Linked DNA regions of Homo sapiens: regions 1 and 3 are each linked to region 2. The links come from fine-mapping of genetic effects on gene expression. A gene starts in region 2. Each other region holds a variant in brackets. All regions are shown on one strand. Distances are between the middles of the regions. Region 1 has its middle 11 kb from the start of PRDX1. Region 2 holds the start of NASP (nuclear autoantigenic sperm protein). Region 3 holds the start of CCDC17 (coiled-coil domain containing 17).

Evidence for each region. PIP is the estimated chance that this variant, and not a neighbour inherited with it, causes the effect.
Region 1: its variant is the best candidate, but not a certain one, in a credible set for the expression of NASP in monocytes after LPS (Fairfax 2014, PIP 0.57).
Region 3: its variant is the best candidate, but not a certain one, in a credible set for the expression of NASP in whole blood (TOPMed, PIP 0.53).

What each region holds. Positions count from the first base shown.
Region 1 is chr1:45,529,037-45,537,214 of GRCh38, forward strand. It overlaps the pseudogene HMGB1P48. Among named protein-coding and RNA genes, the nearest start is that of PRDX1, 11 kb to the left of the region's middle. The variant G/A (reference allele first, on the strand shown) is at 3,449.
Region 2 is chr1:45,579,103-45,587,280 of GRCh38, forward strand. NASP (nuclear autoantigenic sperm protein) reads left to right here and starts at 4,939. Exons shown (of 15, transcript NM_002482.4): 1 at 4,939-5,103. The coding sequence starts at 5,045. RefSeq lists enhancers at 3,555-3,604, 4,015-4,074, 4,525-4,834 and silencers at 4,365-4,424, 5,335-5,634.
Region 3 is chr1:45,616,553-45,624,730 of GRCh38, forward strand. It overlaps NASP (nuclear autoantigenic sperm protein), which reads left to right. Exons shown (of 15, transcript NM_002482.4): 13 at 74-151; 14 at 911-1,039; 15 at 1,509-2,341. The coding sequence ends at 1,589. It overlaps CCDC17 (coiled-coil domain containing 17), which reads right to left and starts at 7,502. Exons shown (of 13, transcript NM_001114938.3): 1 at 7,184-7,502; 2 at 7,005-7,100; 3 at 6,665-6,887; 4 at 6,403-6,565; 5 at 6,199-6,282; 6 at 5,997-6,115; 7 at 5,689-5,796; 8 at 5,325-5,443; 9 at 5,086-5,183; 10 at 4,729-4,932; 11 at 4,351-4,561; 12 at 4,171-4,281; 13 at 3,492-3,881. The coding sequence starts at 7,357. The coding sequence ends at 3,723. The variant C/T (reference allele first, on the strand shown) is at 4,105.

The DNA.
Region 1 (8,178 bases), 50 kb before region 2:
CCACAGGTGTGGAGGGGCAACCCACCCCTTCACCATCTCCACAAAAAATAAAAAATTAGCCCAGTGTGGTGGTGTGTGCCTGTGGTCCTAACTAGTCCAGAGGCTGAGGTGGGAGGATTGCTTGAGTCCCAGAGCTCGAGGCTGCAGTGAGCCGAGATGGCACCACTGTACTCCAGCCTGGGTGACAGAGTGAGCAGAGTGAGACCCTGTCTCAAAAAATAATAAAATAAAATAATGGGAACCCAAATCACAAGACAGCACTCATTTTTCTTTTATTTATTTTATTTTTTTTGAGACAGAGTCTTGCTCTGCTGCCCAGACTGGAGTGCAGCAGCATGGTTTCGGCTCACTGCAACCTCCACCTCCTGGGTTCAAGTGATTCTTGTGCCTCAGCCTCCCAAGTAGCTGGAATTACAGGTATGTGCCACCATGCCTGACTGATTTTTGTATTTTTAATAGAGACAGGGTTACGCCATGTTGTCCAGTCTGGTTTCGAACTCCTGGTCTCAAGGGATTCACCCATCTCGGCCTCTCAAAGTACTGGGATTACAGGCTGAGTCACCACTACCGGGCTTATTTTTCATACAGATGATTTAGAATATGTTTATGTTAAATTTTTTTAGATTATCACTAAAAGAAAACAGTTGAATTCTTCAATTTACAAGGATTCAATTTTTAAAATTATATTTGAATGTACAGAGGCCTACAAATACCAATTTCAGAAACACTGTTATCAAGGATATCTATTTGTTAAAATTGAATGCAACTGAAAGTAACAGATTAACTGCAAATAACAAGCTTAACCAAATAGGGGATTAATTTTTCCCATTTAACAAGGAGACAGGGCCGGGCACAGTGGCTCACGCCTGTAATCCCAGCACTTTGGGAGGTCGAGGCGGGTGGATCACTTGAGGTTGGGAGCTCAAGACCAGCCTGACCAACATGGAGAAACCCCGTGTCTACGAAAAATACAAAATTAGCCGGACGTGATGGTACATGCCTGTAATCTCAACTACTCGGGAGGCTGAGGCAGGAGAATGGCTTGAACCTGGGAGGTGGAGGTTGCAGTGAGCCAAGATCGCGCCATTTGCATTCCAGCCTGGGCAACAAGACGAGCTCCGTCTCAAAAAAAAAAAAAAAAAAAAAAAAGCAAGTAGACAGGGCCAGGTGGAGTGGCTCATGGTTGTAATCCCAGCATTTTGGGAGGCCGAGATGAGAGGATCATTTGAGCTCAGGAGTTGGAGACCAGCCTGGGCGACATAGGGGTACCCATCTCTACAAAAAATTAAACAAACAAACAAAAAATAGCCAAACATGATGACGCATGCCTGTAGTCCCAGCTACCCAGGAGGCTGAGATGAGAGAATTGATTGAATCTAGGGGGTTTAGGCCACAGTGAGCCATGAATGCACCACTGCACTCCAGCCTGAGCAACAGAGCAAGACCCTGCCTCAACAAAAAAAAAGCAAAACAAAATGATAAAAAGCAAGTAAGGCAGGGCACAGTGGCTCACGCCTGTAATCCTAGCACTTTGGGAGGCCGAGGCAGGCAGATTACTTGAGGTCAGGAGTTCTAAACCAGCGTGGCCAACATGGTGAAACTTCGTCTCTACTAAAAATACAAAAAAAATAGCCAGGCGTGGTGGTGGACACCTGTAATCCCAGCTACTCTGGAGGCTGAGGCAGGATAATCGCTTAAACCCGGGAGGCGATCATGCCACTGCACTCCAGACTGGGCTACAGAGCAAGGCTCTGTCTCAAAAAAAAAAAAAAAAAAAAGAAGTAGACAGCTGTTACAGTATGTTAAGCTCCATAGAGACAGCACCAGGGCAAGTGAGAGCCTGACAGGCACAGGGTGACTCTGTGCCTCACTGAGGAAAAATAACTAGACATGAGCAAAGGAGATCCTCAGAAACCTAGAGGCAAAATGTCATCATATGCATTTTTCGTGCAAAACTTGTCGGGAGGAACATAAGCACCCAGAGGCTTCAGTCAGCTTCTCAGAGTTTTTTTTTTTTTTTTTTTAGATGGAGTCTTGCTCCCATCGCGCAGGCTGAAGTGCAGTGGCGCGATCTTGGCTCACTGCAACCTCTGCCTCCCGGGTTCAAGTGATTCTCCTGCCTCAGCCTCCTGAGTAGCTGGGATTACAGGTGTGCGCCACCATGCCTGGCTAATTTTTGTATTTTTAGTAGAGACAGGGTTTTTGCCATGTTGGCCAGGCTGGTCTCGAACTCCTGACCTCAGGTGATCCACCCGACTCAGCCTCCCAAAGTGCTAGGATTATAGGCGTGAGCCACCACGCCCAGCCAGCATTTTCTAAGAGTGCTCAGAGAGGTAGAAAACTGTATCTGCTAAAGAGAAAGGAAAATTTGAAGACATGGCAAAGGTGGACAAGGCCCGTTATAAAAAAGAAATGAAAACCTATGTCCCCCGTAAAGGGGAGATAAAAAGAAGTTCAAAGATCCCAGTGCATCCAAAAGGCCTCCTGTAGCCTTTTTGTCTTTCTGTTCTGAGTATTGCCCAAAAATCAAAGAACACCCAGGCCTATTCATTGGTGATGTTGCAAAGAAATTGGGAGAGATGTGGAATAACACTGCTGCAGTCGGGCATGGTGTCTCACGCCTGTAATCCCAGTACTTTGGGAGGCCGAGGTGGGCAGATCACGAGGTCAGGAGTTCGAGACCATCCTGGCCAACATGGTGAAGCCCTGTCTGTACTAAAAATACAAAAATTGGCCACTCGTGGTGGTGCACGCCTGTAATCCCAACTACTCGGGAGGCTGAGGCAGGAGAATCGCTTGAACCCGAGAGGCGGAGGTTGCAGTGAGCAGAGATCGCACCATTGCACTCCAGCCTGGGCAATAGAGTGAGACTCTGTCTCAAAAAACAATGACCAAAAAAACACTGCTGTGGATGGCAAGTAGCCTTATGAAAAGAAGGCTGAGAAGCTAAAGGAAAAATAGGAAATGGAAATTGTTGCATATCAAGCTAAAGGAAAGCCTGATATAGCAAAAAAGGGAGTCGTCAAGGCTGAAAAAACGAAAGAGAAAGAAGGAAGAGGAGAAAGATGAGGAAGATGAGGAGGAGGAAGATGAAGATGATTAATAAGTTGGTTCTATCACATTTTTTTTTCTGTCTAAAAAGCATTTAACCCTTCTGTATACAAATTACTCCCTTTAAAGAAAAAATTGATGCCGGGCGCGGTGGCTCATGCCTGTCTGTAATCCCAACACTTTGGGAGGCCAAAGTGGGCAGATCACCTGAGGTCAGGAGTTCAAGACCAGCCTGGCCAAAATGGCGAAACCCCATCTCTACAAAAATACAAAAATTAGCTGGGCATGGTGGTGTGTGCCTGCAATCCCAGGTACTCGGGAGGCTGAGTCATGAGAATCACTTGAATCCGGGAGGCAGAGATTGCAGTGAGCTGAGATCGCGCCATTGCACTCCAGC[G/A]TAGGCGACAGAGCGAGACTTCATCTCAAAAAAAAAAAAAAAAAGAAAAAAATTGAAAAGTAAGGCTGTGTAGGATTTGTTTTTAAACTATACAGTGTCTTTTTTGTATAGTTAACACACTACTAAATGTGTCTTTACACATTATCTTTTAGTTTTTCTAGAGACGGAGTCTTGCTCTGTTGCCCAGGCTGGAGTGCAGTGGCACCATCATAGCTCACTGCAGCCTGGAATTCTTGGGCTCAAGCAATCCTCTTACCTCAGGCTCCTGAGTAGCTGGGACTATAGATGGGTGCCACCACGCCTGGCTAATTTGAAAAAAAAATTTTTTTTTTTTGAGATGGAGTTTTGCTCTTGTTGCCCGGGCTGGAGTCCAGTGTCACCATCTCTGCTCACTGCAACCTCCGCCTCCAGAGTTCAAGCAATCCTCCTGTCTCAACCTTCTGAGAAATTGGGATTACAGGAGCTCGCCACCACACCAGGCTAATTTTTTGTATCTTTAGTAGAGATGGGGTTTCACCATATTGGCCAGGCTGGTCTCGAACTCCTGACCTCAGGTGGTCCGCCTGCCTTGGTCTCCCAAAGTGCTGGGCACCACGCCCGACCTAAAACATTTTTTTTTGTTGGCCAGGAGCGGTGGCTCACACCTGTAATCCCAGCACTTTGGGAGGCTGAGGTGGGTGGATCGTGAGGTCAGGAGATGGAGACCATCCTGGCTAACACAGTGAAACCCCGTCTCTACTAAAAATACAAAAAATTAGCTTGGCGTGATGGCAGGCGCCTGTAGTCCCAGCTACTCGGGAGGCTGAGGCAGGAGAATGGCGTGAACCCGGGAGGCGGATCTTGCAGTGAGCTGAGATTGCGCCACTGCACTCCAGCCTGGGTGACAGAGTGAGACTCTGTCTCAAAAAAAAAAAAAAAATTTTTTTTTGTTGTTTAGACAGAGACTCTTTATGTTGCCCAGACTTGTCTTCAATTCCTGGGCTCAAGCAGTCCTCCTCCTTTGGCCTCCCAAAGTGCTGTGACTATAGTTTTTTGATTAGAAAAAAAAAAAATACAAGTTAAAAACTGGTATGATCACTCCACACTGTATCAGGAACTCAGCTCACTGCAACCTCCAACTCCCTGGTTCAAGCGATTCTCCGGCCTCAGCCTCCCAAGTAGCTGGGACTACAGGCACGCACTGCCATGAGCAGCTAATTTTTGTATATTTAGTATAGATGGGGTTTCACCATGTTGGTCAGGATGGTCTCGATCTCCTGACCTCATGATCTGCCCGCCTCGGCCTCCCAAAGTTCTGGGATTACAGCCGTGAGTCTGGCCTACTTTTATTCTTATGATAACCCTATGGTCACAAAATGTCTGCTCTACTTCCAGCCTGGACAACATAGTAAGACCCAGTCTCCAAAAAAAAAATTTTTTAATTCATTTAAAAAATAAAAAATAAATGTATTTAAGTTGCTCTTTACCTGTCTTTTTTTTTAAGAGATGAGGTCTCACTATATTGCCCAGGCTGGTCTTGAAATCCTGGGCTCAAGAGATTCTCCCACCTTGGCCTCCCAAAGTGCTGGGATTACAGGTGTGAACTGCTACTCCCAGCCTACCTAATCTTTATTTGAACTTTTCTTTTCTTTTCTTTTTGAGATGGCATCTTGCTCTGTTGACCAGGCCAGAGTGCAGTGGCGCAATCTCAGCTCACTGCAACTTCTGCCTGCCAGGTTCAAGCAATTCTCCTGCCTCGGCCTCCCGAGTAGCTGGGATCACAGGCATGCACCACCACGCCTGGCTAATTTTTGTATTTTTAGTTGAGACAGGGTTTCGCCATGTTGGCCAGGCTGGTCTCTAATTCCTGACCTCAGGTGGGGACCTCTTGGCCTCCCAAAGTGCTAGGATTACATGCATGAGCCACCACGCCTGGCCTTTTTTTTGAGACGGAGTCTTGCTCTGTCACCCAGGCTGGAGTGCAGTGGCTCAATCTTGGTTCACTGTAAACCTCTGCCTCCCAGGTTCAAGCAATTCTCCAACCTCAGCCTCCCGAGTAGCTGGAATGATAGGTGCCTGCCGCCACTCCTGGCTAATGTATTTTTAGTAGAGACAGGGTTTCACCATACTGGTCAGGCTTGTCTCGAACTCCTGAGCTCAGGTGATTCACCCGCCTCGACCTCCCAAAGTGCTGGGATTATAAGCCACCGCACCCGGCTTTTTTTTTTTTTTTTGAGAGATGAAGTGGGCTGTGAGTGCTGGCTCATGCCTATAGTTGCAGCATTTTCGGGGTGCTAAGGCAGTAGAATCACTTGAGCCTAGGAATTCAAGACCAGCCTGGGCAACATGGTAAGACCCCATCTCTACAAAAATTAAAAATTAGCTATGTGTGGTGGTAGGTACCTGTAGTCCCAGGAACTTGGGAGGCTGAGGTGGGAGGATTGCTTGAGCCTTGGAGGGTGAGGCTTTAGTGAGCTGTGATCATGCCACTGCAGTCCAGCCTGGGCAACAGAGTGAGACCCTGTCTCCAAAAACAACCAAAAAAAGGAGAGATGGGGTCTTGCTCTGTCATCCTGGCTGGAGTGCAGTGGCTGATGATGGGTCACTGCCGCCTTAAACTCCCCAGCCCAAGTGAATTCTCCCGCCTAAGCCTCCTGAATAGCTGAGATTACAGGAGTATGCCACCATGCCAGGCTTGAACTTGTTTCTGGGTTTACATTGACTTCCACTCATTATTTTATTTTTTATTTTTACAAATCTGACATTTCAATTTTTTTTTTTTTTTTGAGGCAGAATTTTGCTCTGTTGCCAGGCTGAAGTGCAGTGGCACAATCTTGGTTCACTGCCACCTCCGCCTCTGGGGTTCAAGCGATTCTCCTGCCTCAGCCTCCCGAGTAGCTGGGACTACAGGCATGTGTCACCATGCCCAGCTAATTTTTGTATTTTTAGTGGAGACAGGGTTTCACCATGTTGGCCAAGATGGTCTCGATCTCTTGACTTCGTGATCTGCCCACCTCGGCCTCCCAAAGTGCTAGGATTACAGGCGTGAGCCACTGCACCCAGCCTCAATTCTTATATTTTCTATCAGATATCAACCTTAAATTCAAGTATGATTTGATAATTGTTCTTCTATTGCTGTCCTGGTTAATACTATGCTGCTTTTCATTATTAAATAAGGCACCCATTTAGGATATTGAACGCTATGGATTTTAGCTTCAAGTTTTCATTTTCCCAGAAGATGAAACTAGAGACATAAAATATTGATTTTTCTTCTTTTCTTCCCTCTTCTTTCCCCTCCAATTTTAGGGGATCAAGAATGAATGTAGAGATATAGTCCAGACCAGAGCAGTAAAGGGAACATGTCCAAATTGGATCAATCATGAAGCCAACTTGGAATACTAAAGTTGGTTTTTATCTCTAGCTACCTGATGCTTCAGCAACTGATTAATTCTCAGATTCTTTTTTTTAGAACCAAGTCTCTGTAAGTAGAAGCACTTTTCGGTTATTTCTTAATCTCAACACTATTGGCATTTTAGGTTTGATAATTCTTTGTTATGGAGGGACCGTCCTATGTGTAATAGGATGTTTAGCAGTATCCTGGCCTCTTCCCTCTAGATGCCAGTAGCACCCCCCACACACGGTGCCAACTGTCTCCCCAGGTTGAGAACCGCTGAGTTAGAGAAGGTCAAAAAAATGACTAGAGGACTCCTAGTTTATCTAACCTTCTGACCTATTTGTCCTGTTTGTCCTGGCTGGCAGGGTCAGCTCTGCCTAGAGGCAGGGGAAAAATCTTTTACTTCTTTCATGTATTCATACGTTACTTCTAGCTATCCATCCTGGCCAAAGCTTCCAGAAATTAGGAAGCTTGCTTGCCAAAAGCACTGCAATTAGGAGAGTGATGATGTCGGGACTAGAAAGACTCACACCCACTGTAATCTGTCTTCATATTGCTCTTGAGTGCCACTCTGCCCAAAATTTATCATGTTGACAAATGACAAAAGGCTCTGAAAAAGCATACACATGAAAAAGGAGAGCTTTACCTCTAGGCAAGAATGCTTCACTCTGATTAATTCCTACCCCCAACCACACCCCTCACCACAAGATAGAATCTTGTCTTTTGTGAGGTCTTAGTCATGTTCCTTTGGCCCACTGCAGGCCATAATTCTGCAACTAGAGACATCTCTAATTCTCTCCTTCCACCTTCCCCTAGAGAAATGTCAGGCCTGACAGATGGACCCTAGTTTGAGATCTCTATGACCAGAGTGGGTTCTGAGGCAGGACCAACCCTTACGGTTGAGCAGTCTGAGCATCTGACAAAAGGGAATAGTGGGTGGTCTGGTAACCTGCCCCTAACCTGCTCATCAGAGATGGTTTGCTGAACCAGGAGAAAGCTTGGCCCTTTCTAATTATAAAATAAAACAATTTCACTCAGTATATGTTTCAAACCAGAAGATTTATCTCCCCTCTTTTCTTCTTTAACTTAAACAGCCCCATTTCCCCAGCTGCTCCTTAACTGACCTGCTTTCCAAACCCCTGCTGATATCTTCCTATAGCATTTAGCTTAGTATCAAGTTCAACCTCCTTCCTTAGCTTGACACACGAGGCTCTCTACCCTCTGACCCCTTGTCACTCCTCCCTCATATACACCTCCTGCCGCTCTAGCCGTAAAGCACTATTTGCAATCCCCGGAGTGTATGTTGCAGATCTCAGTGCTCTCCCCAATTCTCTCCACTTACTCTTTGCCTAAATCC
Region 2 (8,178 bases):
ATTTACAGAAAAATCATACAATACACTTTTGAATTTAGTCAATATGTTCACACAGATAATTTCTTTGCAAGATTAATTTTTTTTTTTTTGAGATGGAGATGGAGTCTCACTCTATCACCCAGGCTAGAGTGCAGTGGCATGATTCCAGCTCACTGCAACCTCTGTCTCACGGTTCAAGCAATTCTTGTGTCTCAGAGTCCCGAGTAGCTGGGACTACAGGTGCCTGCCACAATGCCAAGCTAATTTTTGTATTTTTAGTAGAGACCAAAAAGCAGTTTATAACCATAAAACATTTAGCCAACCTGGTATCTGACCTGCATAATTTAGTCCAACTATTTTTTTTTTTTTTAAGACAAAGTTTTGCTTTGTTGCCCAGGATGCAGTGCAGTGGCACGATCTCGACTCACTGCAACCTCTGCCTCCTGGATTCAAGCAATTCTCCTGCCTCAGCCTCCTAAGTAGCTGGGACTACAGGAGCACGCCACCATGCCCAGCTAATTTTTTGTATTTTAGTAGAGATGGGGTTTCACCCTGATGCCCAGGCTGGTCTTGAACTCCTGAGCTCAGGCAATCCGCTCACCTCAGCCTCCCAAAGTGCTGGGATTACAGGCGTGAGCCACTGCACTCGGCCCAGTCCACTTATTTATATTTTGATGACATTGGCTTTTTACCAATAATCTTTAAGGCTGTTTTCATTTCTCAAAGATTAAAGTCAGGTGAACTGAAAAGTATCACAGGTTTTATCTTTCCTTTTATTTTTTTTGAGATGGAGTTTCGCTCTTGTTATCCAGGCTTGAGTGCAATGGCACAATCTCAGCTCACCGCAACCTCCACCTCCCAGGTTCAACTGAGTCTCCTGCCTCAGCTTCCCAAGTAGCTGGGATTACAGGCATGGGCCACCAAGCCTGGCTAATTTTGTATTTTTAGTAGAGATGGGGTATGTCCATGTTGGTCAGGCTGGTCTCGAACTCCTGACTTCAGGTGATCCGCCCGCCTTGGCTTCCCAAAGTGCTGGGATTACAGGCGTGAGCCACCACACCCAGCCTATCTTCCCTTTAATAAATATTTGATCCAAGTGCTTATCTTCCTTTAGGCCAATTAATTAGAGCTATTTCTATAGACGTCACACACAACACGTATATAACTCCACGGACAGGCAGAAGAAAACCCAGCCCCCACAAGATCCTTCATTTGCCAATCTCCTATTTGGACCATTGGCCTTTGAGGACTTTTAATTCCTGGGGTTACATGAGGAAAACAGGCCGGGCATGGTGGCTTATGCCTGTAATCCTAGCACTTTGGGAGGCCAAGGTGGGTGGATCAGCTGAGGTCGGGAGTTCAAGACCAGCCTGGCCAACGTGGTGAAACCCCATCTCTACGAAAACTACAAAAATTAGCTGTGCACGGTGGTGCTCGCCTGTAATGCTAGCTACTCAGGAGGCTGAGGCAGGATAATCACTTGAACCCAGGAGGTGGAGATTGCAGTGAGCTGAGATCATGACAGCACACTCCAGCCTGGGCGACAGAGTGAGACTCTGTCTCAAAAAAAATTTAAAAAGTACATGGATTTAAAATATACTTATTTTTTAAAATTTTTATTTTTTGTTTTTTTGAGATGGAATCTCACTCTGTTGCCCAGGCTGGAGTGCAGTGGTGCAATCTCGACTCACTGCAACCTCCGCCTCCTAGGTTCAAGCGATTCTCCTGCCTTAGCCTCCTGAGTAGCTAGGATTATAGGCGCCCACCACCATGCCCGGCTAATTTTTGTACTTTTAGTAGAGACGGGGTTTCACCATGTTGGCCAGGCTGGTCTCAAACTCCTGACCTCAGGTGATCTGCCTGCCTCGGCCTCTCAAAGTGCTGGGATTACAGGCGTGAGCCACCCTGCCTGGCCTTATTTTTATTTATTTATTATTTATTTATTTTTGAGACAGAGTCTCACTCTGTCACCCAGGCTGGAGTACAGTGGTGCGATCTCAGCTCACTGCAACCTCCACCTCCTGGGTTTAAGTGATTCTCCTGCCTCAGCCTCCTGAGTAGCTGGGACTACAGGCCCCCACCACCATGTCCGGCTAATTTTTGAATTTTTAGTAGAGATGGGTTTTTACCATGTTGGCTAGGATGGTCTTGATCTCCTGACCGTGTGATGCACCCGCCTTGGCCTCCCAAAGTGTTGGGATTACAGGCGTGAGCCACTGTGCCCAGCTATTCATTTTATTTTATTTATTTATTTTTTGAGATGAAGTCTCGCTCTGTTGCCAGGCTGGAGTGCAGTTGCACGATGTCGGCTCACTGCAAACTGCCTCCCAGGTTCAAGCGATTCTCCTGCCTCAGCCTCCCGAAGTAGCTGAGATTTCAGGCGCCTGCCACCACGCCTGCCTAATTTTTGTATTTTTAGTAGAGATGGGGTTTCACCAGGGGATCCAGGCTGGTCTCAAACTCCTGACCTCAGGTGATCTGCCCGCCTCGGCCTCCCAAAGTGCTGGGATTACAGGAGTGAGCCACCGCGCCCGGCCTGCATCCAGCTATTTATTTTTTTTTGAGATGGAGACTCACCATCGCCCAGGCTGGAGTGTAGTAGTGCAATCTCAGCTCACTGCAACCTCCAACTCCTGGGTTCAAGTGGGTCTCTTGCCTCAGCCTCCCAAGTAGCTGGGATTACAGGAGCCTGCCACCACTCCCGGCTAATTTTTGTATTTTTAGTAGAGATGGTGTTTCACTATGTTCGCTAAGCTGGTCTCGAACTCCTGACTTCAAGTGATCCGCCTGCCTCAGCCTCCCAAAGTGCTGGGATAACAGGCACCTGCTACCACGCCCAGCCTAAAATATATTTTAAAATATATTTCTCTGAGTTCCTCAAGGTAGAGTCCATGTCTTTTGTCCCCAGAACCTAGTACAAAGTCTTGTACCTCAAAGTTGCTCAGTGAATATTAATTTAATGGATGAATCGGTCACACCAGTAATTGCAGAGGTTTTCTCAGGCCCTAGCCCTGGCTGCAAGGACTTTGGAGAGATCTCCCCTCCCAACACCCTCCATTTACCACATCATCAGACTGTGGTAGCCATTCAATGAGTGCTTAGCGTGAATTCTACACAGTGCTAATTACCTGTAATTCTCACAATGTCCTTAAGCGGTGGCTACTAATATGTCTTCATTTTACACTTAACCTTAATCCCAGCTACTCGATTACAATCCGGGTTACGTGACCTGGCTCACGTCACCTAGCTAATAATGGAAGAGCCCATGTATGTTTGCCATAGGAATTGGCATTTTCACGTCCAGCTCTCTAGCCCCAAAGATTTCAACCTCTTCGAGCCTTGACAGATTGGAATAAGAATCCTCTCCAGGAATCTTTCCCAATATGCTGGAACCTAAAGGGAAATAAAAACCCCTACTCCGATCAGCGTAGACTGGGCCATGGTGAAAAGGAATGGATGATACTCCAGGTGTGAGGAATTGCAGCTTTTTAGCCTGCCAGTTATTTTTCACTCAGCCATTTGCAGGAAATGAGGCACACTGCTTTCCATAACTGATTTGTCTTGCAACTTTCTGAACAAGTCACAGCTTCCCCTTTTTTTTTTTTTTGAGACGGAGTCTCGCTCTGTTGCCCAGGCTGCAGTGCAGTGGCGAGATCTCGGCTCACTGCAACCTTTGCCTCCCGGGTTCAAGTGATTCTCCTGCCTTAGCCTCCCGAGTAGCTGGGATTACAGGAGCCTGCCACCACACCTGGCTAATTTTCGTATTTTTAGTAGAGACGGGGTTTCACCATGTTGGCCAGGTTGGAACCTTGGCCTATTTATTTATTTATTTTTGAGACGGAGTTTCGCTCTGTTGCCCAGGCTGGAGTGCAGTGGCGAGCTCTCGGCTCACTGCAACCTCTGCCTTCCGGGTTCTAGTATTCTCCTACCTCAGCCTCCCGAGTAGCTGGGATTACAGGCGCCCGCCACCACGCCCGGCTAATTTTTGTATTTTTTAGTAGAGACGGGGGGGTCTCACCATCTTGGCCAGGCTGGTCTTGAACTCCTGACCTCGTGATCCACCAGCCTAGGCCTCCCAAAGTGCTGGGATTACAGGCGTGAGCCACCGCGTCCGGCCCCTTGGTTTATTTTTCTAAGAAACAGACTAACACTGATCTCACTAGTAGCATTGTTAATATTAAACAAGATAGCTAATAGCTTTAAAGCGTCTAATCACGGTACCCCCACGAGTAGTAGTCACACAGCAAATCATAGGCAGGAGTGGACAAACAGCGCTGGGAGCATTAATTCTGGTAGATTTGGAGTCTGGGCAGGGCCTAAGAGGATGGGATCAGCGGATTGGGCCAGCCAAAGGGGGCGGGTTCAGAGGGAGGAGCCAGCTGCCTCCCGCTGCAAGCCCCGAGCTTTGAATCAAGCGCGGTAGTTTCAGCTGTAGCCAATCCTAGAACAAAATCTTTTTGCGTCAGTTGTTGCTGAGGCCTAGATCTCACCCAGATCAGTTCTAGTCGCTGCTGCTTGTACCCGTCCTCGGCCCTTGCGTGTCCGTCCGTTACGACTCAGAGGACGGAGAGAAAGTCTAAGTCACCTTCCTCAGTATCCAGGCCGGAAGGAGACTCTCAGCTACTCGCCCTGAACATGCAGAGCAGCACTGGCTTCCCTGTCTCTGGATGCCGCAGGGGCGTCCTGTCAGGAGTTGTAGTGTCAAGATTCCAGTTCTTCTTATGCGACTTGCTGGAGAAGCAGGAAGTTGCTGTTTATTGGAGAAGTCGGGCTAGGGAGGGAAACAATCCCGCGGAGCCATATGGAGAGGGCAGGAGGTGTCTAGATAGTGGTAGGCCGGCGGGGGACGGAGGGTATGGGTGGTGAGTCCTGGCCCTTTAAACCCGAGGGGGAGGATCCGGAAGTGGATGGGCGGGGCGAAGGGTCCTCGTATATAAAAGGGCCCCGGCCGCGCGGGGTCTCTAATCTGCCATTTTCTGTCCCTGAGTGAGTCTCTGGCGTCCCAAATTGCCTGTTTTTCTCGCAGGCTCTATTCCGTTCGCTGGTTCGCCACCTCAGGGGAACGATGGCCATGGAGTCCACAGCCACTGCCGCCGTCGCCGCGGAGCTGGTTTCTGCCGACAAGTAAGCGGGACTGTGGAAAGCTTAAGGCACTGGCCAGTCCGCGGGGAGGGCTAATGGACGGGGGCTCCGGAGAAGGGGCAGACCGGTGGGCGGGAGTACTTGCCTTCCCAAGAGCAGCTGTCGCTGTTCGGGAAGGCCTGGTCACTGGAGCAGTCCTTCTTTTGCTGAGAGCCTCGCGCAGCAGCGGTAACGGCGGTCGGCTGGCGCCCCCTGCCCCGCTTTTCGCGGCCGCCATCTTGCCGGGGGCAGCGGCGGCTGTATCCTTCGCCTGCCCCTCTCCTTCCTCCCCCAGCCCGGGGCGGTTGGCCGGGAGGCGGGGCCCTGGCGCGCGGGTTGGCCTTCACGCCCCTTCTGTCCCCAGCGTGTGCCTCTGGTAGAACCCCTGGATAACCCGGGAATATAACCAACGAAGATTTGGCGCCAAAAGGGAAAAAAAACCTTGCACGAGGAAGGAGGCTGGACCTGAGGGGTCGGGGTGGGCGGGGCCTTGCTGAGGGCGGGGTTTTGCGCGCGTGCGTTCGCTTCCCTCGCCGGCCCTGGGGCAGGGGGCGGGGCCTTGAGGAGGCGGGAAAACTCCATTGTTTGGGGCCGCTGCGGCTCCAGCAGGAGCTTTGGACTATCTCCGTGGGGCCGGCGAGGCTAGTTCCCCCCGACACCTCGCTCACGTCTTGTGCTGGGAGATAGTTATCGCTCCCCGCGACTCCGTGAGCCCCTGCCTGTGGTGGGGAGGATTGTCGTTCTTTAGACTTTGGAGGTGGTGTCTGTTTGGGGGGAACATTACCGGACGTAAAGCGTCTTCAGGAAGCGCTGTCTGGAGCTCTCACCAGCACTGTTTGGTTGCTAGGTGAATCGGCAGTAGTATGCACGAAGTGGAGAAGGACTGGAGGGAAACAAGATAGGATTGTTTTGAAAGCGGCACAGTGCCACTCAGGCGTAATCTGTTTTTTGAACAGTGGAGGGAAACACTACACGAGTTCAAGGAAACAAGTGCTGTTTCCCATACAGTAGGTCTGATTTCCCAATCTTGCCATATTTTTTTAGGCATCTGGTTCTATTTTTTTTTCTAATCTTGTGCGCTTTAGAGGTTAGTTGCCTTCCCTGTAAAAGGAATGGTTGCTGTGAAGTTTTTTAAATTGATATTCTATAGGCTTACACTCTGTCATGATTATGTCTTTGTTTGTTTATAGTTAGAGATTTACGTATATCTCTGCTTACCACCTTTTCTCTCTGCGTTCTTGTAGAGCAGTGGTTCTCAAGTCACCCTGAGAATCATTTGGGAACTCATGGGAAATACAATTTTAATTTCAAACTCCCATTACCTGCCTCTTTCCCCATTGATTCGATATAAGCAGTATAGATTGGGCTTGGGAGTCGTGCTATAGCTATTATAAAAAGAGCTGCTTTTTATAATGTTTCCTAGACAGCTCTAGCAGTCAGTATTTCACTGACAGCTGTGTGTTTTTGTTTTGTTTTTGCAGACAGGGTCTGGATCTCACATCCAGACTGGAGTGTAGTGTTGTGATCATAGCTCACTGCAACCTCGAACTCCTGGGCACAACTGATCTTCCCTAGTAGCTTGGGACTACAGGTGTGCCACTACACCTGGCCAATTTTTTGTAGATACAAGGTCTTAATGTTGCCCAGGTTGGTCTCAGACTCTTGGACTCAAGCAGTCCTCCCGCCTTGGCCTCCCAAAGTGTTGAGGTTACAGGCGTGAGGCACGGCGCAGGGCCAGGTGTTTTTGTTTTTGTTTTTTGAGGTAGAAGTATGCAACAAATACCTCTTGCAGGTCCCCTGTGTCTAGCCAGAGTTAGGTCATTAGTGAATTTAGTTTCCTGGCAGGTTATACATAGAGAAAGTTTATGTATATGTGGCTAGAAGAAAGCAAACCATTTAGTTCCTCACAGCATAAATTGAAAGCTAAAACTGAGCAATTATATGTGCTGGGTGTGTGGGGGTGGGGGGGCAGGGTCTCTGTCACCCAGGTTGGAGTGCAGTGATGCCATCTCGGCCCCCTGCAGCCCCTACCGTGCCGTGTGTGTGTGTGTGTGTGTGTGTGTGTGTGTGTGTGTGTGTGTGGTGTGTGTGTGTGTGTGTGTGTGTGGTGTGTGTGTGTGTCACCCAGGCTGGAGTGCAGTGATGCCATCTCGGCCCACAGCAGCCCCTACCTCCTGGCCTCAAGTGATTGTCCGGCCTCAGCCTCCCGAGTAGCTGGGACTGCAGGCGCACACCACAAGGCCCAGCTGATTCTAGTATTTATTTTGTAAAGACGAGTTTTTGCCATGTTGCCCAGGCTGGTCTCCCAACGCCTAGGCTCAAGGGATCCACCCACGTGGGCCTCTCAAAGTGCTGAGATTACCGGCGTGAGCCACCAAGCCTGGCTAGTATTTTCATTTTCATTTTCATTCTTCGTTTCCCCATCTAATTAGTGTGAGAGAACATGAAAGCAGTGTGTCTCAGTTAAGTAAGTTAGTGGGGACACTTAGAGGTAAAGTTTATAAGGTCCTCATGTTTAAGGGTAGGATAAAGAAAATGACTTGAATTTAGACTTTAGGTAAGAATGTACATTATAATTCGAGGATGACCATTGAAAGAATAAATATAACTTCCAAACCAGTAGAAAGAAAAAAAATGGAATGAGAAATAAACCTCAGTTCAGGTTTTTTAAATTTAGGAGATGAGGATCTTACTATGTTGCCCAGGCTGGATTCCCAACTCCTAGTCTCAAGCAATCCTTCCATCTCAGCCTTCTGGGTAGCTGGGACTACAGGCATGCATCACCTCGCCTGGCTTAGAATTGGCTTTGATAGCAGCTTCATTGCTTCAGTAGTGATATTGGACCACAGTTTTGTCGTCTGCAAAAAGTCTTAGGTTGGCTTTTGTCCCCTCGTGCCATTAAAGCAGTATTGTTTAAGGTGATGTATATCTACATGCTAAATTAATCCTGTCATTCTTAGCTTTCTAACTAGTTCTTAGTTGGTTTTTTTTTGTTGTTTTTTTTTTGAGAGGGAGTTTTGTCACCCAGGCTGGAGTGCAGTGGCACAATCTCTGCTCACTGCAACCTCCGCCCTCCCG
Region 3 (8,178 bases), 37 kb after region 2:
TAAAAAATTATAAAAGCCTCAGCATTGATCTCATATAGCTTGTACAATTGCTAATAAGGGCTTATTTTGCCAGATTGCCAGTAGAAAGCCAACAGACGGTGCTTCCTCATCAAATTGTGTGACTGATATTTCCCACCTTGTCAGAAAGAAGGTAAGTCTACATGTGGTGTTTCTTTTCTACCGTTTCCTCAGACTCCATTTTTAATCCCTTTCCTATAAACCCCTCCCTATAGTTGGTGCATATAAGACACTTATTTTCCAAAGGTGGTAAGGATTTGTGAGTGGAGACTGTTGTGTTTTGTTTTGTTTTGAGACGGAGTCTTGCTCTGTCACCCAGGCTGGAGTGCAGTGGCGCAGTCTCGGCTCACTGAAACCTCTGCCCCCCGGGTTCAAGTGATTCTCCTGCCTCAGCTTCCCAAGTAGCTGGGATTACAGGCGCCCGCCACCACGCCTGGCTAGTTTTTGTATTTTTAGTAGAGACTGGGTTTTGCCATACTGACCAGGCTGGTCTTGAACTGCTGACCTCGTGATCCACCCACCTCGGCATCCCAAAGTGCTGGGATTATAAGCGTGAGCCACTGCCCTCAGCCAGGGAACTCTGAACTCCTGTTCTGTTTCCTGACTCAAACACAGGAATTCAAACTTGTACAGTGATTACCATTCACATCTCCTCACCCCAACCCTATCTCCCTGTGCTTCCGGTAGAGGGGCCTGAAGTGATATGGTGGGACAGATTAATACATTCTGAGAGTACAGGTTGGCATCTGCCTGTGGCTAGGGAGAGAGACCCTTAGAGCTGTGAATCCTGATGTTCAGGATCTTTGCACCACAAGGGTTAAGGAAATGTTTTGCAGTTGTCTTTTTAAAAACATTAAGCACATTTGTGAAGCCTTCACAATTATATCTTTAGAGGAAACCAGAGGAAGAGAGTCCCCGGAAAGATGATGCAAAGAAAGCCAAACAAGAGCCGGAGGTGAACGGAGGCAGTGGGGATGCTGTCCCCAGTGGAAATGAAGTTTCGGAAAACATGGAGGAGGAGGTGGGCAGTTAAGCAGGGCTTAGCCTCTTGCCTCATTCCTTGTTCTCAGGACCTGGGGAAATCAGTCCTCTCAAGTGCATGCTCCCCACCTTGAGCCTGCTAACGATTGTTGAGTGCAGTCCTCACAGAAAACGGTACTTGTGCAGGAAAACAGTTTGGTTATGGGAGTATAGGATGACTCACTGACAAATGGAACCTGTATATTATAGGTCCCTCGATGAATATATGAGAAGGCACTTGATGGGCAAAACCATTAGGTCACTTCCTTCCACGTGATGATTATTGGCTCTGTCAGCCCCATTATCACAGAGTATTCAAGAAATACTTTGTGGTCACTGCCCTCTTAATATAGGGAGCAAAGCAGAGTTTGGGTGACTTGTATATGCTTCCTATGACTGAGGCCTCAGTTATATAAGACAGAATGGCTTAAACTAGGCTCACTCATGCCCAGGTTCTGTTTGTCTTCCAGGCTGAGAATCAGGCTGAAAGCCGGGCAGCAGTGGAGGGGACAGTGGAGGCTGGAGCTACAGTTGAAAGCACTGCATGTTAAGAGGGGGCACAGCCCTCCTCCCAAGGGAAAGTGTTTTTGTATATAATGTATTTTTTCACTTTTGGAGGATTCTTTTTGTATAACTTCAATAAAGATTGTAAGCAAAGGTTGAGGCTTTGATGGTTTTTTTCTTAATTATTGGCTGAATCTGCCTTGGAGCACTGCTGGTTTTATATATTAGCCAAAGGTTTTGTTCTGGCCTTCTGTACTGATCTGTGTTCCTGATCCTAATTCCTATCTGTCTAACGTGGAGGTGATCAAGTGTGGCTGTAGGCCTTTGTTTTCCAATGGTGCTATATTCTGTTTTCAAACACTTCACTGAACCCAGCTGTCTTGCAAACTTTCAGTGGTGCTGTCCCTGGATGGGGGCTACAAAAACAAGAATTGGTGAAGATCTTGCTCTTCAGTGCTGAAAATGGATGATGGACTTTGGCTGTGAGCCAGGCCTAGGATGGTTCTTGTCCTATATCCACCTAGTCTTCACCTGGGGCTATAATTCTGTCCTGGAAAAAGAACTCTGAAAACCTGGGTCAGGGGAATGATTCCTAAGGAAAACGGTCTGCATTTGAGCTCTGGTTTGAAAGTAGCCAAGGGGACTGATGGTGGACACTCCAGATGTGGTTGGAAGCATATGTGGGGAGGCTGGCTGGTTGAGTTTTGTTATTTTCTGTATAGAAAGGTTGAGATATATCAACACTTGGAATTGTTACCCATCTGCAGAATTGACTTCTCAAATAAAGATGCTAAAAATCTCCTTGTCTGGAATTATGTTTAAAGATCTTAAGTGGGGTCTTAGGCTGCTTTTTTGAGATGGGATCTTGCTCTTGTCGCCCAGGCTGGAGTGCAGTGGCGTGATCTCGGCTCACTGCAACCTCTGTCTCCTGGGTTCAAGAGATTATCCTGCCTCAGGAGGCTCCCAAGTAGCCAGCACTACAGGCTAATTTTTGTATTTTTGGTGGAGACGAGGTTTCACCATGTTGGCCAGGCTGGTCTCGAACTCCTGACCTAAAGTGATCTGCCCACTTTGGCCTCAGGAAGTGTTAGGATTACAGGCGTGAGCCACTTCACCTGACTGCCTGGAGCATTTCTGTGTGCGATAGAGGGTTTCAAAGGCAGAAACGAGCCCACCAGTCCAAGGATGCTGGTGGTGAGGGCACTAGTATTAATGTTAGACCTGTTGTGCTCTCACTGGTGTCTAGGGGTCAGGGCTCACTTGAGACTGAACTGCCTCTGACCTGACTCTAAGTACCAGTTAGGATCTGAATTCCAAACAATGCCTGCCCTATATCACCACCTCAATTTAGTAGTCATGACACCCATAGGGCTGCTTTTGTTGCACTGGAGGCAGAGGAAGCGATGGCCGGCCCCTAAATTCAACCCAATTTTTCAGACTAAGTAAGTTTTTCTGGGCTGGTCACAGTAACTCATGGTTGCAGGATCTCTGGCTTATCCTGGCTGTGGAGTTTCTTCCTGATGTTGCCCTTGCAGTATATGTTCCAGGTCCTGAGGCGCTTTGCCCCCTTTTCTTGGTCAGGACAGTCACGATGTAGTTTACTCCCAGGCACTTGACCTTCTCTGGTTGGCACTGGGATCTAGGGCTAGGCACAGTATCTAAGCTAGATCTCACATGTGACCCCTGGTTGGGGGAACAACCTTGGGCTGGGGACCTATCCCAGAATCAAAGTACATAAGGCCTCAGGAGCTTCCTGTTTATGGGTACATTGAGAACCTGAAAGGTTTCCTGGCAGAAATACTGAGGAAACGGATTTAAGTTTGGCAATAAAACTGGCTTTACCAAAAAAAGCAGTGGGAACTAGTGGGAATTTAAAGTTGCTTTAGTGGGAATTAATGCCCCCTAGTCACCTTTCGGAGAACTTCATAAGTGCCAGACAATATCACAAATACCTGACAAACTCATTTAATCCTTAATCTGTTTTACAAAAACAGAAGAGGTACAGAAAAGTTAAGGACTTAACGGGAGGTGGTAAAGCTGTGGTTGGAACTGGTTTTCTGTACTCAACTGCTAGATGCTTCTAGACCCAATGTCAGAACATGGAGTAGTAAACCTGTAGGTCTGGAAATAGGCCCCAGTCCTGTGCATGTTCAGATGCTCATCTCCACATTCACTTGGGTTCAGAAACTCACTGGGGGCAAGTCAGAACTGTGGTGAGGGCCCAAACCCTCATCTCTATCCTTGACTCCACTGAGGGGCTCTTCTGTACGAGGTGGGGGATCAGCAAAGCCAACTGCGGGGGTGAGGAAGCTGGCTTCCAGTGAAGATGTGCTGGACACCTGTGGAACAGGAGAAGGCAGGTTTTGAGCAAAAATGTAAAGGTTAAGCACACAGGTTTTGGAGTTAGTTAGGCTTCCTTAGAGTCTCACTTACTGTGAACCAAGTTAACCTGCTCCTGCTTTGATTTCCTTATCTGTTACATAGTAGGACTTCATAGAGATGTGAGGATCAAACAAGAAAGCATTGGTAATGACTGGCACACAGTGGTCAATAAAGGCTGGC[C/T]GTTAGCCATACCAGCCACACCGGTATGTGTAGCTGTGGTGTCCCTAGCTGCAGCTGGGCCCTCACCGGAGGTGGGTACTGGTACTCATGGACACTTGCTGGATTGATCTCTGCCAGTGTCTGTACAGCTGCATCTCTTGCATTCACCAGCCGCAGAAAGAGCTCAGCCTGACCTGCCTGGGGAGAGATGAAATGGTATTGCACTTGTACTTTGCTGTATGCCCAATCCCTGCGCACCACACTCACCTGAGGAATCCCATTCAGCTGCCCAAGGCTAAGGCTGGGGTCCAGAGGAAGGGCCCGAAGTGGGAGGCGCCAGCGGCCACTTAGCACCCGCTGATCTTGGTCAAATAGTCCAAGTGAGACCCAAGCCTTTGGCTGTGGTGCCCTAGCCCATGCTAGCCCCTGCCAGACCTGCAGCTCACAGACCAAAGATACTGATGATGAGGGTGGTAGTCTGTAGAATAACCAAAAAGCAGTGTCGGAAGCCAGAGCTACAGTCCCTTTCTAGGACTTAGCCCTTTAGAGCCAGCGGCCTCTGTATACAGATGAGAAAACTTAGCAGAATGGTGGATAAGCCTCAACTGTGGCAGAGTACCAGAGTCATGATCCCCACCTACTGACCTGGGCACAGGCTGCCTGCTGGCAAGGATGGCACAGTTGCCCATGGGCCCGGGAGCAGGAGGTGGGGGCAGGCAAAGGGCTGGGGGCAACGCTGTGGTCCTTCCTGTATCCCGTCCATCGCGTGCCAAGCCAGTCCTTAGTTGCACCCAAATCCAGGAAGCCTCAAGGCCCCGCAGGAAATCATAGAAAATGACCAGGCCAGCCCTGGGGAACACAAGTCTTAGCACAGAAATACCCAACTCCTTTCAACCTCCCTCCTCTCAGGCAGGTCCCTAACCCTATCTGGTCCTAGTGGGCTCCCTTAACCAGCAGTGCTGGCCAAGTCACAGAGGCTGTCGAAGGTGGCACGGGCCTCACCCAGGATCATAGGGTGCAGGGCCCAGCATGTCCGATGTGGGCAGGAGGAAGTGTGAGTCCAGGCCCAGGTTTCTGGTCATTGTTCCAGGAAGCTGTGGCTGTGGGGAAGAGAGCTGACTCCTCCAGAAAGCCTTGTAGCTGCTCATGTTCCCCCAACTGCTCAGAGCAGAGCTGCCTCCAACCTGTTCCCCCAACCCACCCCGTGTCCTCACAGCCTTTGCCCCACCCAAGAACTGAACCTCCGAGAAGCCTGGAAGTGGTGGCAGCGGTGGTGCCACCGGTGGCGGGAGGAGTGGGGGATCTCTCCTCCCCTTCGGTTGTAGGCTGGCATCCCCCAGGAGTCGCAGATCCTGGGGCCCTAGGAGCAGAAGAGTTAGGGTGCCCCTAAGTTGGACAAAGCAGGTAATTAGCTGAGATACCCCTCCCCCAAGAGTTGGGCCCACAAATGGGTTGGCGGAGCCCTGTGGATACAGGGATACACACGTGCAGACATGAACTAGGGGAGTCACAAACACGGGTCTTGTTCCCCATGCACTGTCTGCCTGAGCCAGGCCTGCTGGGGAGAGATAAGTGGGATGGGATAGGGTTGGGGTGCTCACTGACCCAAGGGTGCCCGACCCCTCTGCATTTGCAAGGCCAAGATTTCTGCCTCCAAGCGCCGGTTTTCAGCCTCCACTACTGGAAGCTCCCCTGAGGTGGCACCTGCCCTTCCTGCGATGAACAAGTGTGACCTGTCACCTTTGACCTCTGGTGACTGGCCGCGTCCGGCTGTGAGCAGCTCTCCAGCGCTAAGGCTCTTCGGATAAGGCTGGACTTGTCAGCTCACATGCCATCCACAGCCACAGGCCCTCCCTCGAGTTCTTTTCTCCTCCCAGGACTGACCACCGCTGGCGAGAGGCCCTCCTGTTCACCTCTGCGGGTCTGCGACCGCTGCAGCTCCAGTGCAGACGCCTCCACCTGCAACTGCCATATCTGGCCCAGCACGCCGGGGTCCCGGCCCCCGTCTCGAATGTAGGCCTCCCGCAGCGCCCTAGGGAGTGGGGAACAGGAAGGCCGTCTTTCCAGAACTGCTCAGCGCTTCGCCCTATGCCCATCTCCGGCCCCGGCTCTCACCGGATTTCGGCAGCCAGAGTTCCCGGGTTGGCCTTTTGCACTGGAGAATAAAGTTCTGCCTCTCGCCGGGAGCTCAGCGGGTTCCTGGGGTGGCAGGCGACGCGCAGGGAGACGGTAACGCATCAGAGGCCCCGGGGCTGCAGCCAGCCCGCCCCTCCCACCCCGGAGCCGCATGTTCCGGGGATCCGCTTAGTCGGGTCTCACCCTGGCTCCGCCTGCAGCTCCTGAATGCGGGCCCCCAACACCTCTAGAGCTCCCCGCGTCCTCCCGGCCTCAGCTTGTAGTTCTCGAATCTCCTGCTCCAGGCCGAAGAGGCGGGACATCCCGCCCCGCGTACAGGCCACAACTTGGAGGCGTCGGCTCAGTTCTGAGGGAATGCGGGCCGAGTCAGAACCGGCCCGAGCAAGCTTAAGCCAAACGGCGAGGGCAGAGGAGGTCCTTGGTCCCCGTCCCCCATCTCCTTCACCCTCGCCGCGTAGCTGCAGGGCCCGGCTCTGCGCTTCCATCTCCGCCACGCGCCTCGCGCGAGTCCTGAACAGCGCCCGCAGCCGCTCGCTGGGGCTTCCCACCGCCTCGGACATGGGACTCTGAGGCCGCGCCTCGGAACGTGTCCAGGGCCCCGCGAACACCCTGGGGACCTCTGTTATCCAGGGCCGCATTTCCTGTAGGGATAGCCGCAGCCACTGCACCTGGAGGTAACAGCGATCCGCGATCTCTGCGTGGGCAGAATCTGTCCCAAGTATGATCTACAGGTTTGGGGAAGACGCTCAACGTTTTGAGCCCTGGGGGAAGGTAGGTAGCTCTACCTCCTCTGTTAACCTCTTTAGAGCAGATCTACTGGCCTGCTGGTCTGGGAGGCCCTGGGGTTCTTGTGGCACGCCCTGGTGTTCTTGTGGCACAACCTGGGGATAGGGTGTAGTAGGATGAGGAATCATAAAGGTCCTGGCTCCTTTGAATCCCCACCCATGGCCATGGAGGCCCTTACCGCGGCCCGCTGGGGTTCAGTGGCAACTGATGCCTGTGCTCCAAATGTCATCTCTTGGGTCGGGTGGCCAATGCAGAAGCGCTGAGTATGGGTGGCTAACAGAGCTGAGGAGCGGAAAACCATGTCACAGGTCCCACAGGGCAGGAGCGCAGGCTCCCCAGAGTGGGAGTCCATGGGATGGGACCCGTTTCCTGAAACCAGCCAAGACCTGCAGAAGGGATCAAGGGCAGGGGAAAGGCAGAGGAGGATGAAAGAGACATAAAGCCAGAGGCAGAGAGGAAAGGCCGTGTCTATTAGGTCTGTGAGATCTTCAAGTTTGTTTGGGGAGAGCCTTAGCTCCCTGGACAGCAACCACAGGGCTGGGCAGGTCAGGAGAATGGGTGGGGAAACCTCGGCCGTTTGGGAGGAGCCACTGGCTTGAAAAAGTGTTACAAAGTCTGAACGTGGGCAAGTCTCTAATTGTAGCTTGGTTTCCCTGACTATTAATAAAGAGGAAAAAGCAGCTGCCTCCTAGACTAGGCTGGGCCCTTATCACTTACTACATCATTGGTCATTTAATAGCCTCTAAAAGGCAAGTGTCATCTTTTTCATTGCTGTACTCCCAAGTGGATGTAACAGTTTGTACCATTCTCCAATCCAGAGAACTACCTGGCAAAGGAGGCACTCTGACCTTTCCAGCATTCTGCCTGGAAACCATGTCGCACCAGGGATAGCAGTCTCCCTAACTCCCATTCCCTGATTCCTCATTTTTCAGCTGTAGACGAAGATAATCAGCACAGCCCAAGAAATGAAAGCTGTGGGCGAACAGAATGAATCTATCAGATGAGGGAATCAAGTCCAGAAAAAAACCCCTTCTCTCTCCCAAGATTGGCCAGAAGCCAGAAAGACCCTGAACTGTTGGTGAAATTCTTCACTCCACTCCCACTCCCAAAATATATGGAGGAGCTCTGAGGTGACCGCATATTTCTTAAGAAACCCTCTTTACTTTTTTTTTT